Homo sapiens: one gene and its partner. The protein of the gene in region 1 binds, or shares a complex with, the protein of each later gene. Each region holds a gene or a part of one and is shown on either strand. Other genes may lie near its edges.

Region 1 (7,405 bases):
CAAATGTAAGCAACAGCCAACAACACTTAGTCTTATCCAATAAAACTTTTTTTTTTTTTTTAATGGGGAAAAGATAGTGTGTTTGGTACTCCCAAGACCTCATGCATCCTTTTTCTTTAGCAAAACAAAATAACTATCAAAGCAAATAGATGCCCTTAGTGGGGTACAGATATCCCTTAATAAAATGTTGATTTTTCTTTAAAGACAAGTGATTCTGTGCAATAATGAAGATTGGTTTCCACTACCCCCTTTTTGTTTGTTTGTTTGACTATCTACTTTACAATTAGAGATTAGCATTGGTAGGCATTAAGTTGCTTTCCCAAACTCTATCTCAATGTAAGGACATTTCCCTACAGATAAGGATTGACAAGGGTTTCCATGCAGTTTCATGAGTTTGGGGTGAATTAGAGTTACATATTTCTGTGACTAAATCTCCTAAGGGATTAGGCAAAGGTAACTTTCACTTTGTGAGATTTCAGTTACACATAGAGAAAGCCTGCCCCCTCTGCCCCTGAGGAGGGAACTGCGGCCATATACACAGAGGAGTGCTTCTTGAAACACATTCTCTGCTTACATTTTATGCCCTACTGACTAGGGGAGTCCCTCTGTGTTAATTAATTGACAGCCAAAATAATTGTCTAAAGACATGCTGTAACTCTCTTAAAATATGATTAAGTCTTCCATGTGATAATTTCACTTCCATACCTCTCCCACTGAGGAAAAAAAGGATTGTGTTAAGAGCACATTGTAGGTTTTCTGGGAAGGAATCCAAATCAATAATACATGTTTCTCCTCCTCAGATAATCATTCTTGACCTATATAGGGCAACGGAGCCCCCAAGGAGCTCAGTGACATAGATGCCTCTGCTCCTTTTCTGCTAAGCAAGCAGGTTCATGGTAAGTGGTGACAGTTAAGAATGATTTTTCCTCAGAGTAATTGCTACACTCAGCCAACATAAAACAAGAGGACATCACCCCACCAATGAATGCCACTGTAACGGCCTCCAATGATTTTTGTGTTAAAATTGAGAAGGAAGGTACGTATAGATATGCATTAGAGCCATTTTACTATCGTTACACACAACCAGTGAAATTAAAAGTAAAACCTAAAGATCTCCTGTAATTTTTCAAAGGGGTAGACTCTTTTCACAGAGTTGATTATGAATATCTCATCACATGTATTTACATGACTGTAAAATTCCATCCTTGCAAGTCAAAACTCTTCACTGAACTGAATGTACTCATTGGAATTGATCGGATTCTTAGTGAAATGTCAGGCACGGGTTACAAATTTGTGTAACTGCTTTTGCCCAGTGAACCCTTTTTATTAAAGCAGAATGCTTATCAAGGTCACTGTGAAAGATTGTAATTTTAAAGCTCCAGGGGAAAACTAGAAATAAGAATCAACAGAAAACAGATTTAATTAGCATTTTAAAGTTTATGGTTTTTCGGGAACCTACTGGTCCCTATCACTTTCTGGATTTCACTGACAAATGTATTTTGCAGAACTAATAAGTTAGAATGATTTTGAAATCCAGCTCTCCTAAAGAGGCACACTAAAGCTTCTCATTTTCTGCTTTCTGGCAGATCAGGTTTGAGAAAGCAATCTTGAGCTTTCAAAGGCTGGAAAGAGGGTGCTAAGTAAAAATATGAGTGTCTCCTTACGTAAGATCCTACAGGTGTAGGTATACTTGGAGGTTGGCATGGAGTGAGAAATCTGGTGTATATGTATACATGTATTTGTTCCCATGCATAGTTTAGTATATTATAACAATATAAAATATGTTAGAGGGCATGGTTAAACCCTCTCTATTTTAACTTTTTTAGTCTTGCATACTATGTAACACAGACAGGATCACTTTTTATGGCATACATAAGACAACAAAATTATCTTGCCAAACGATTGCATTAGTTTTGGGAAAAAATAAACAAGATATGCCAGATCCAAAAAGATATTAGATAAGCAATAAGAAAAATGGCCAGCTAAAAGTTTACTGTAATTATGTAAGGCAACATGTATGTTATTTTGATTCTTCTTGTCACACAATGATCCAGAAACAATTATTTTAAAACAAAATTGCTTGTCTCCTCGTTAACCCCAGAAAAAATTACACTGCTTATGATCTTTCTGTTAAACCATAAGACAAGTCATTAGAATTTTAAAAAACAAAAATAATAGCGCTATCACTTACCTGCCGAGCAATGAAATTAGATGTCTTTTCAGTCTCTCTAACGTAGAATTTTGAGTAGCTCTCCACCCTCTTTTCACAAAGCTATTTCCAAAACAGTTGCAATCCACTCAAGACCATTCTGTTTATTTCAAGAAGTGTGGACCTTTGAGCATTTCAACCCCTACCGCACGGCCCATGATTTCTCAGAGCTTCTAAGAACTTCGACTTTACTCTCCTCCAGAATTCCTCCCAGACCCCTATAGAAAAATGATTCTTGAAGTTGCTGCTGAGAGTTTAATCTGTGGAGCAAGAGTACTCCTCAGAGTCCTGTCCTTAGGTACAGCAGGTGTAGAGGGAGGGGTACTTTTCATCCATTAAGGAAGGGGGCCGGGAGGCGAGGGGGTAATAGGAGGCACCGCCTTTTAGCTGCGAGGAGCAAGTAGCCCAGCTGCCCGTGGCGACGACAGTGGCGGCAAGGACAGCGGCGGCGGCAGCGTAGTTCCGTCCCTGTGGCTGCAGCTCAGTCCGGAGACGCTGTCCATCCCCTCTGGTGCTGAAGTAAGGGGACGGGAGCCCCTAAGCGCAGGTCCAGGTCGCACTTTCCTCCACCAGCGAATCCAAGCAGCAGCTTCCTTGTCTTCCGCCCTAGCCTTCTCCCCTCCGGTTCTTTTTTTTTTCTTTTTTCTTTCTTTTTTTTTTTTGTAGGGGCTAATTGTTTCTCCAAATTAACAGTCTCATACTTATTTGGTGACAACGTTTCTGGAAAAACAGGAATCCCTGGGAAATAACATCTGAGCCTCCCCTGACTTTTCAGTGGCCCTGCACGAGTTTCCTAATGCCAGAAATGAAAGAAAACGCACGCACAGGGGCGCGCACATACACGCACGAGAGAGGCAGAGAGAGAGAGAGAGGAAGAGAGAGAAAAAATATATAGATTTGTACCGTGGAAAATCCAGAGCTTCTTTGGAAAGCTCGTGGATCTTTAATTACATAAGATGAAAAGGAATATTTTGGAAAACTCCGCAATCTTGATTACCAATTAAGGGGACCACATTCAAATTTTGAGAAACCCAATTTGAAATTCCTAAATTAAACCCAGTGAAGATTCTTAGACCCTCCACGCGGAAACGATAGGTTATTGTTAAAATTTTAAAAGACAGAGAATGAAAGAATGAAAAAGACAGGAAAAAGCATCTGCACTCGGCTACCTTTTAAAACGCTGCTGAATTGGATCGGGATCGTTGCAGAGCCTCTCAGAGGATCCGGCGAACGCAGCTCCTGTGAGTGTCAGCGCTGAGCTCAGCGAGCAGGCAGCTTGGAGGCCCAGGGCAGTGCTAGCGAGTCGCCCACAGCCTAGGCTCCTGCAGTGGGGGCAGAAAACGGCTTATTTCACAAAGGACGGGATAAAGAAGGCACAAAGACAGTCAGAGGGCTCGACAATCTCTGCCTTTGTAAAGCCAGAGCAAAGCCCAATTTACGTTGTTTTTTTTGTTGGCTTTTCAGCCCATTTTCCCTCTGGTCTCCCACGCTGCCCCCTCGCCTCCCTACTCCGGAATCCGCGCTCTCCCGGGCCTTGCAGGCTCTTCACTCCCGCTCTTGGCAACTGGCTGACAACGAGCATAAAGAAGGGTATGGGTGCGTGGTCCCGAGTGCTGTCACCCAGGGCTCAGCCACCCACACTCGGCAACGGGTGCAGACGCCAGTGAACTGAGACGGGAAGTTGAAATACATAACGTTGAAACTGTTGGAAAACTGGTCAAAACCAGGGCCATGTGGACCTTTGAAACTATGTGGAGTAAAAGGGGAAAATGGAAAGAGCGAGACTGTAACACCGCCCGCCCTTGCAGACTCCTAACTTGTGCAGTGTAGATTTCTGCACAAGGAGGTTATTGATAGACATGAGAGGAAATTCGAGAAAGACTGGTGAGGGGCGCTGGTGTGTGTGGTGGGGACGGGGGTCCGGGAGGGGCGGGGCGCAACACTAATTTCTCCCGGGCTGTGGGAAGGGGCCGGACGCCTGCTCCTGGCCTCCCTTCCCCGGCGACTTCTCAGGTTCTTCTTCCTGTTCTGACACTACAGGGAAGTCCTAGACGTTGTGCTTTCCTCCCACGCTTGCTTCCATCAAGGATTAGAGCGCGTTCCCGCTGGTCTGGAACCATCCATTCCAGGTAGGGGATCTTCCCTCCCGGGGACATTGCGCTCTCCAAGCACCGGCCTGCGGCGCGCGCGGGGGACGGGCGAGGAGGCGGCACAGCCAGTGGAGTTCCAGTGGGCTCCCTGGAGGAGAAACGTTACTGAGCCGGGAATCACTCGGGACGGAAAACCAAACAGGCCGCGTATTTACTCACAGGAAAAGGCCAGACTTTGGTTGGACTTTGAGCCATTTTGCTGCAGCAGCAACGGCTTTATTTCCCTGGGGTGGCCACCAGCCGCCACCGCGGCTCGCGAGCTCCGGCTGGAAGGGGCCGCGCTGTGCTCCGCACATTGCAGGCCGCGGTCGCTGTGTGGAGCTGCACACGCAGGAAACGGTCGCCGTGGAACGAAGCCCTTGGTCAACTTTCTCTAACAGTCTTTTTTAACAGAGGATCTATTAAAGGTTGTGATTCTCTCTAAAACCGTGTTTGGGGAATCCATCTGACCTCACGGAGACACACAAACCTAAAAAGAGAGTATCTGCTGCTTGAGGCTAATTTTTAAGGGGGTCTTTTGCTTTTCAGTCCATGTGAAAACGTTGCTTAAGGTTATGGTAAATGAAGTTTCCCTTTTCCTTAGACAAATGTGGTGAAACACGTGCTTCTTTTTTCTGCAGAAACAATACCTGTCGTGTGTGTTTCAGAAAATGCCCCCTTTTTGTTAGATGATTAAAACAAACCCCCCGTGTGAGGGTTATGCTAATCAGGGGCTATCCGTCCTTGTCAGCAAAGAAGCTTTTCTCTGCTGTATTTAATTCTATGCTTACTAAGGTTGATTTAATTGATTGTTTAAATTATTTTATCAGGACATACGGAAACATGAATAACCACAGAAAATCAACACACCAAATAAGAGCATTTAAATGAAGCACAGAGTACAAAGATGTTGCTAATTAAAAACATATGCACTTGATTATTCAGACCTAGAAGAACAGATTCTTTTCTTCCTGAGCACTGATTGAGTTTTATGCGGTCTCTCTCAATCTTTCTATCCCCCTCCCTCTGTCCTGCCAGTAAAAGAAAACAGAAACAGTTGATTAATGTGAACTGACAGTCCCAGTATGATTATGATAGTTTGATGTCTTTTCTTCAAGAAGCAAAATCCACTTTATATTTTTTCTCATCAAGTTGTATAACCAGTTATGGAAATCAAGATGATGAAAATTAAATACCGCCTAACATCTGATGCTACAAATGAATATAAATGAAGTACAACATAAAAAAACCAAGGGACAAATAAGCTGAGGTGAATTAAAGAATTATGTTAAGAAATTTCACCCCGGGAGCAGATTTTCCAAAGTCTATTTTAAATGATTTTTTAAAAAAATTCTTAATTTAAGTTGCCATGATTTTAAAAATGTAAATATAGTAAAATGTGAATATAAATAATCAAAACAATACATGAAGCATTATATGCACAAGAAAATGTAGTAACCTAGCATCATTACTGTGAATTCTAAACTGGCTCATTCAATCCCTCTCTATAAAACTAGGATATAATTCCCCTCTAGTCCACTCTACACAGTGCAAAAATCTTAGAAAACATAATAGTTTGTGGAACATTTTGTAAACAATTGGAAGTCCTTTGGGTCAGGAAGTTTGAAATGTAAGTTGAAACCGCCATACAATATGATCTAAATGAATCGTCATTATACACTATGTGAAACGTTGGCTGTGTCACTTCCGGAAGCCTCCTATTTTCACATCTCATTACTATATGTAAAATGGTGATAATAATCATAATTTTTGCCAGCCTCATAAACTGTCATATGCAAAAATCAACATATGTAAAAACTTTGTATATCTTGTATATTTCTACAAAAATAGGTAGTAGCACCTATCATCTGTGGAGTATCATTTGCTCACAATTTTTAGACCTCAATTGAAAAACTGGTGGTTCCATTTAAAGGTTCTATTTTTTGTTAATATATATTTCTAATTATTTCTGTGTTTACTTCATGTTTCCTAATAGATATAGAGCTGTAATAGGCCTATACCCATATCTGAACCCTTTTCAATTAACAGTTTTAACATCTTCAGTATAATTTTGAGCTGCTTTTTTAAATTGTGTCCAAGTACAAATAAATATTACATATCTATTACCAATTATTTCTGAATTGGAACAGTGATCCTATTTTAAAATCTCCTTCTATGGGTTTTCAGATGAAATGTTACTGAGTTGTATTTTCTTTTGCCCCCTTTGAATATAAGATCCCTTACTCAATCATACCTCTACTCAGCTAAGGAGTTCTATTTTGCTGAATTGTGGTCAGATAAATCTTGAGGACTTCATGGGTGTTTGCACTTGTATAAGTTGAACTTAGTTAACCTCAGTAGCAGGCAAAAGTAGATGGAAATTTGTACTCAAATGACTGAGGTACAAAAATCTGTCCCTCAGATTAGTTTAATTTTTCTTTTGCGGGAGGTAACAAGTGGCTGCCAGAGAAGCTTAGAAAATTGGATACTGTTAACTGCAACTGCCTAGGAGAGACATTTCATTTTAGAGAGTAGTTCCCTAAGCATTTTCTTCTGTATTTCTGTTTTTTCTATTCACAAAAATTCTGAAGTTGAATACCGACTTACTTGACAAAGAGTGCTACTTTCTGCCACTTGGATAAATTACTTAATCTTTTTGAGTCTATTCACTTTAAAATGAAAATAATGCAACTTATTTAGTAGAGTTAATAAATAGCACCTGGATCAAGGTTTTGTCCATATGTGACAGATGGCACACTCTCTAGAAGATCTCTCCATGCCTCTCTGACAGGAACAGTGCTGCAGAGAATTTTTATTGTTCATTAACATCAAGCAGTAAATATGGCTGTATTTGAAGTGTGGTGTAGATAAAATTTGTATACATATATGTGGAAATTCCACACACAAGATTTCACTGCTATGGAAATCCCTTCACAGCTCAACAAATCATTCATAGAAGCAAGTTGCTAACCACTGGGAAAAAAAATCCTCATAGGATATGCTGCCAATTTGGCCTAGGGTATAAAATAGTTTTTAATTGCCTAGTAGCTATACCCCTTTCTAATAA
Region 2 (6,872 bases), on another chromosome or scaffold:
TTGGGGTTATAGATTCCATGGGTTTTGACAAATGTATGACCTGCGTTTATCATTATAGTATCACACAGAGGAATTTTATTGCCTAAAAATCCTCCATCCTCCACCTATTAATCCGTCCCTCTCTCCAGCTCCTGGCAACACCGACCTTTTTTTTTTTTTGCGACGGAGTCTCGCTCTGTCACCCAGGCTGGAGTGCAGTGGTGTGATCTTGGCTCACTGCAAGCTCCATCTCCCAGGTTCATGCCATTCTCCTGCCTCAGCCTCCCGAGTAGCTGGGACTACAGGCACCCGCCACCACGCCTGGCTAATTTTTTGTATTTTTAGTAGAGACGGGGTTTCACTGTGTTAGCCAGGATGGTCTCGATCTCCTGACCTCGCGGTCCGCCCGCCTCGGCCTCCCAACGTGCTGAGATTACAGGCGTGAGCCACCGCGCCCGGCCAACACTGACCCTTTTTTTTTTTTTTTTTTTCTGAGACGGAGTTTTGCTCTGTCGCCCAGGCTGAAGTGCAGTGGTGCAATCACGGCTCACTGCAGCCTCGACCTCCTGGGCTCAAAGATCCTCCCACCTCAGCCTCCTGAGTAGCTGCGACTATAGGTGAGAGCCACCACGCCTGGCTCATTTTTGTATTTTTTGTAGGGATGGGGTTTCGTCATGTTGCCCAGGCCAGGTCTTGAGCTCCTGGCCTCAAGCAATCCACCTGCCTTGGCCTCCTCAAATACTGGGATTACAGATGTGAGCCACCGTGCCTGGCCAGCCACTGATCTTTTACTGCCTTTTCCAGCATGTCATGTAGTTGGCATCATCAATACAATACATAGCCTTTTCAGATTGATTTATTGTACTTAGTATTATGCATTAGAGTTTCCTCCAGGTCTTTTCGTGGCATGAGAGCTCATTTCTTTTATTGGAGGATAACATTCCATTCTCTTGGATGTAGCACTCTTTTTTTTTTTTTTTTTTTTTTTTTTTTTTGAGACGGAGTCTTGCTCTGTCGCCCAGCCTGGAGTGCAGCGGTACAACCTCGGCTCACTGCAAGCTCCGCCTCCCAGGTTCACGCCATTCTCCTGCCTCAGCCTCCCGAGTAGCTGGGACTACAGGCACCCACCACCATGCCCAGCAAATTTTTTTGTATTTTTTGTAGAGATGGGGTTTCGTCATGTTGCCCAGGCCAGGTCTTGAACTGCTGGCCTCAAGCAATCCACCTGCCTTCGCCTCCCAAAGTGCTGGGATTACAGGCGTGAGCCACCACGCCTGGCCGGATGTACCACTCTTTATCCATTCACCTACTGAAGGACATTTTGGTTGCTTCCAAGTTTTGGCAATTATAAGTAAAGTTGCTATAAATATCTATGGGCAATTTTTGTGTGGGCATAAGTTTTCAGCTTCTTTGAATAAACACCAAAGAGTGTGATTGCTGGATTGAATGGTAAGAGTATGTTTAGTTTTGTAAGAAACCACCAAAGTGTCTTTCAAAGTGGCTGCACCGTTTTACATTCCCACCAGTGATGGCCGAGAGTTCCTGTTGCTCCATGTCCTCACCAGCATTTGCTGGTGCTGTCAACATTTTGGATTTGGGCCATTCTAAAGAGTATGAAGTGGTCATTTTATCTTTTATCTTTTTTTCTGTTTCTCTCTGTGTGTGTGTGTGTGTTTAATTTAAACTTAATAGCATTGACCAATGTGTTGTATGCATTTACACTATAGCATGTTATATTTTTGTTCTGATCATATTCCTTTTCACTTTTCCATTCTTTTTCTTTTTTCTTTCTTTCTTTTTTTTTTTTTTTTTTGGAAACGGAGTCTCGCTCTGTTGCCCAGGCTGTACAGTGGTGCAGTCTCGGCTCACTGCAACCTCTGCCTCCTAGGTTCAAGCAATTCTCCTGCCTCAGCCTCCCGAATAGCTGGGACTACAGTGTGCAGCACCTCACCCCGCTAATTTTGTATTTTTAGTAGAGACGGGGTTTCACCATGTTGTGGCCTCTTCCCTCCTTCCAAGTCCAGGCAGATGCTCCCTCTTTCCCGAACTCATCCCCTACACCCCATCACAGGGACTTCCTCCCGCCTTGGGGGTCTCAGCCCATTTTGTCCTGATGACCCACATGGTGGGTCATGGTTCCTGCCTGAGCCTGTGTCCCCTGTGGCCCACGAGGGTGGACACGGCCTTCTCCAGTTCTGAATCCCTCGTTGTCCACCTGCGCCCTTGCCACGGCCTCTCCCGTGGGCTCTCACCATGTGCTGGGTTAAATGGGGTTGAATATAGACCATCTAAGGGGCTGAAGCTGCTGCTTCTGTGTGTTTGGGGTGGGATTAGGATGGGCTCGGGCTTCCTAAGTAGTGACTGTGACTCCACTGGGTGACCTGGCTCCTGCTGCCTCTCATAGCAGAGCGGGGGTCCCCTTCTTCCTTGCTGGGCACAGGGCACACCTCTGGGTGGGAGACAGGGGCCTTTTTCACCAGCTCCCACCTGCCCTCTGAGAAAAGTTATGAACACGAGCAAAATGGAAGCACTGACATTTGGCAGCAGCTTCCTCCCCAGGCGTCTGAGCCGCCAGAGGCAAACAGGGAGGGCGCGGGGCTGGGTCGGGAGAGGGTGAGTAAGCTAGTGGCCGGAGGCCGTGCTCAACCCCAGATCGGGCTTTTCCGGTCGAGTTTCAGGCACAGTCATGAGATTTCAGATTGTGAGTGGGAACTTCAGGACCCCCTGACTTCAACGGCAGAAGCGGTCTCCTGCTTCACCCACACCCTCAAGTCTGGTCTGCCCCTTACCGGCCATAGGTCCTGCTCTCCCGTGGCCTAGAAGCCTCACCTGCCTCCTGCCTCCTCCCCAGGCCAGGCAGGTTGTGATGATGAGGGATTGAGAGGCTCACAGCTGGGGATTTCCCTGCCCATCAGGCGCCAGCTGCGGCCGCGTCAGCAGAGACTTCCTGCTCTGTCCCAGCTGTGTCTTGTCCACATCTCGCCCCGGGGAGCAGGTGTGCAGTTCCTGAGTGACGCGAGACACACACGGCCATCCTGACTCACTCCACCCACTTCACAGCTGCAGCCTGGGCCAGGAGAGAGGGCACCGATTCCTTCTATGACGCCCTGGCCTTGGAGAAGGGCAACCTGGGCAGTTGCTGGGAGAATACATTGAGATGACAAAAGCAATCATAGCTAAGAGCTGACATTGTTTATTGAGTTCTTGCCGTGCCCTGGGCCTTGTTCTGGCCCTTTCTACTTGTACTTGTTGAAGCCCCACGATAACCTTGCAAAGTGGGTTTATGAAGCACGTTTCACAGATGAGGAGACTGAGGCTCGGAGAAATGACCTGCTAAGGTCATTCAGCCAGGAAGGGGTGAGGCTGACACTAAGGGCCATGATGCGTGACTGCTGGTGGACAGCATTAAATGGGGACTTCCGTCCCCGAGAGACCTGATCCCAGGAACCGACTTTTGAGAACAAGTGCCGAGTCTTGGGGCTGGCCACCCTGAGGTCAACCAGGCTAGGCCTGGGCTGCGGTCTTCCCTCCCAGGGGACAGAGCAGAGCGCTTGACTCTTCACTAGGCCCTCCCACCTCTGTGATCTCTTTGGCTCTTCACGGCTCCCTTGGAAAGTAGATGTTATCATTCCCATTTCCTAGTTGGAAAAATAGGCCTGAGATGGGCAGTCCCTGCCCAGCATGGAATGCCAGAGAGGGAGGAGTTGGACCCACAACTTCGATCTTGGCACCTGCGGCCTCCCCTGCCTTTTCTCCGGTGGGGATGAGGCTGCTGTGTGGGTGTGGGGGTGACTCACACGGGCCACGTGGGTGGGCGGGTGCTGCAGCTGTGGCTGGTGGGCGTGGCCTGCCTGGCGCCGAGGGCAGGTGGCTCAGCCAGTTCTGCCTCTGACGCCTCATTCCAGCCATCCCTCTGCCTGCAATGAGAGCTTCCCGCCGCCTCAGCCACAGTCCCACCCGGGGGCCTTGGGCCCCAGACATGCGGTGATCTCAGGGCAAGGGTTGCCACGACCACCCAGAACCTCACCAGGTGAGTCTTCTGTGCACAAGGCAGCTGGTGATCTCCAAGGCCCCTGGGGAGCCCAGAGCGTGGCCCTCAGAGGTCCTCTGGGCCATGTCTGCCCTTGGCCAATAGGCCTTGGGAGGAGGGTTGGAAGGAGCTTGGGCCCCAGCCAGGGGCCCACTCTTGGCTGTAGGGAGGCACTCTTGGCTGCACTCTTGGCTGTAGGGATGTGTGAGAATATAGGTCCTTACAGACTCAGGAACATTCCCCTGAGGTTTGGGAATCCTGGGGAGGGACATCTCAATCTCACCACTGCTGGGGGCAGAGGAGAGGCTCCTGCCTCCCGAGGCTGACCCAGGGAGGTGGCTTTCTGGGGCAGGATTGTGATGGGAGTTCAGGATGGGAGGAGGTGGCCCCACCGTGGGAGACAGACGGGGCCCAGGCATCTCACAGGTGCTGAGTCAGCAGCTGTGGCTCCGCGGCCTGGTCTGTCGCCCGGGAAAGGCCATTTCAATCAGTGTCAGGGATTGGGAGAGAGAGGGAGGGCCAGGGCAACAAGAGAGTCCAGCAGGTGAGAACGTGGGGTTTACGGGGTGACTCAGGGAGCTAATGATAGCTGCTGCGGCCCTAGTCCAGAGTTCCCTGAGCCTCTCCTGCCCCAGAGGCCCAGGGCAGGCCACATTCTCGGGCCCAGAGAAGAGAGAGAGCAACCAGCTCTCAGGGCCACAGAGTCCTTGGGGACCATTCAGCCCACTTCTCAGAAAGGAAACCAGAGGCCCTGGGAGGGGCAAGAGACGTGCCCTTCTTCTGTCTCCTTCACGCTCGGTGCATCCCAGCCTTTTAGTCCACCAAAGGCCACGTGGGGATGGGGAAAGCCATAGAGGCTGCCCATCCTCATCAGGCCGTGACTGGACACGGGAGGGCCGGGTGCCCAGGAGTCCCTCTCTGTGGGCTACTCCACCTGCCTGGCCTCAAGGTTGCCTACGCTCCAGGGCCAAAGCTCTCCCTCGCCGATGCCTCCTCCATCCTGAGCCTGCTCCCTTTGAGTTGGAGGGCGGGGGACTCTCTCCAGCCTGATGACACCTGGCTCCGGAAACTTCCTCCAGGAAGCTTTCCTATTGGGGTAGGATCACCAGTGGCCCCAGCTCCACCCCACCCAGCTGGGTTCTTCTTACAGAAATCCGTCTTCCTGCCCCCACCTATGTGTCGCCAGGTGAGTCCCCTGAGGATGATTCAAGCTGAGAGTGGCACCCCCTGACCACACAGTCACCACCTGTCCACACAGCCCTTTCCCCGCCCATGTCATCCCTCTGTGGCCAGCTGGCCCCCTTCCCCGTCCCTATGGCCCCTGCAGCAGCCTCCTCCTGGCCCCTGGCTTCTGGTCTCCCCCACCCCCCAACGCAGCCCGCGCTCTCCTATGTAACCCAGAGCCTCTGCACCCAACTCCCAGCTGCCCCCAGGGGTCAGCCATAGCTCCTTTTTTATGTTTAATAAAAACTTTATTTTTTTTTTTTTTCATTTTTTTTGAGACGGAGTCTCGCTCTGTCGCCCAGGCTGGAGTGCAGTGGCACAATCTCGGCTCAATCCAACCTCTGCCTCCTGGATTCAAGTGATTCTCCTGCCTCAGCCTCCCGACTAGCTGGGACTACAGGCATGTACCACCATGCCCGGCTAATTTTTTGTATTTTAGTAGAGACGGGGTTTCACCATGTTGCCCAGGCTGGTCTTGAACTCCTGAGCTCAGGCAATCTGCCCACCTTGGCCTCCCAAAGTGCTGGGATTACAGGTGTGAGCCACTGTGCCTGCCTGAAGCCACAGCTCTTATGCGGTGTTCGAGGACTATACAGGGCCCAGCCTGCCCGCATGGCTTTCGCTGGCAGGGTCCCCATGAGCTCCCCAGGTTCTCTGGCCACAGCAGCTCCCCCCACTCCTGCCACTCCTGACCCTCCCAGGCTCTGTCCTCTGCCCGGCTTGTCCTTCCTCCACACAGCAGCCTGTACGGTCTATCCTGGTCTTGTTGGAAGATGTATCAGTCCCCCTTCCCCAATCCCCACACCCCTCGGAGCTCAGCACGGTGCCCAGCCCACATTGAGCATCAGTAAAGCAGGTCTGGACTGGGGGGTCGGCCTCCTCTGCCTGGGGCAAGGGGACTCAGCTGCTCCCTGCAGGTGAGAGGGGAATCTAATGGACAGGCAGCCATAAGCTGGTTACACACAGCTTTGGGTGGGCGGGGGAGATGATCGGTGTGTTGGCTGCAGAGACCACCTGGACACTGAGGAATCCAAAACACCTGAGGAGCTTAAGGCTGTGTTACTAGGAGCATAACATCTAGAGCAAAGGAGGTGATAATCTTGCTCTGTGGAGGTCAAAACTCTTGGAGAGCTGCTCATCACAAAATCGGAGAGGGACCTCAGGAAAGCAGAGCTAGTGCTTAGGAGTCCGCCTGGGACTGGTCAGCTGGAGAGGGTGTCATGAGAGAGGACAGGGGCATGGTGGTCTCTACCGGGACACCCTGCTGGACTCTCCACTAGTTCAGGGGTCCACCTGGGGACTGGTTGGCTGGGGAGGGTGTCATGAGAGAGGACAGGGGCATGGTGGTCTCTACTGGGACACCCTGCTGGGCTCTCCTAGGACCATAGCATTTGGGGGTGCTAGAGCAGGGAGCTGGGGAAGCTTTGGGGACAGCTTCTCTGTCCTTGAAGAAGGATTGGTGAACTGGGAAGGGAGGAGTGAGCTTCCAGTTCCAGGTAGTGTGAACGGGAGCTGGATGCAGCCACATGGGGCCCCTAAACTCCCTGAAGCTCCCCCTGTCCCCCCGGCCTGAGCATCTGCCCTGTGGTTGTATTCCAGCCATGAAAGCCCACCCCAAGGAGATGGTGCCTCTCATGGG

The links.
Region 2: the proteins of SNTG1 (region 1) and TRPV3 are in contact, whole or in part, in a crystal structure (PDB 7QQN), measured with the Homo sapiens proteins. Residues at the interface, in NP_001274742.1 of Homo sapiens: Arg62, Gly66, Gly67, Phe68, Gly69, Leu70, Ser71, Ile72, Lys73, Gly74, His78, Ser85, Lys86, His118, Glu119, Val122, Arg126; in NP_659505.1 of Homo sapiens: Pro786, Glu787, Thr788, Ser789, Val790.

The regions. Positions count from the first base shown.
Region 1 is NC_000008.11:49,907,018-49,914,422, reverse strand, and holds the start of SNTG1 (gamma-1-syntrophin), read right to left. Parts: upstream 3,017-7,405; 5' UTR 2,192-3,016; intron 1-2,191. UniProt on the Homo sapiens protein: Adapter protein that binds to and probably organizes the subcellular localization of a variety of proteins. May link various receptors to the actin cytoskeleton and the dystrophin glycoprotein complex.
Region 2 is NC_000017.11:3,554,813-3,561,684, reverse strand, and holds the start of TRPV3 (transient receptor potential cation channel subfamily V member 3), read left to right. Parts: upstream 1-3,872; 5' UTR 3,873-4,009; intron 4,010-6,832; 5' UTR 6,833-6,834; coding exon 6,835-6,872. UniProt on the Homo sapiens protein: Non-selective calcium permeant cation channel. It is activated by innocuous (warm) temperatures and shows an increased response at noxious temperatures greater than 39 degrees Celsius. Activation exhibits an outward rectification.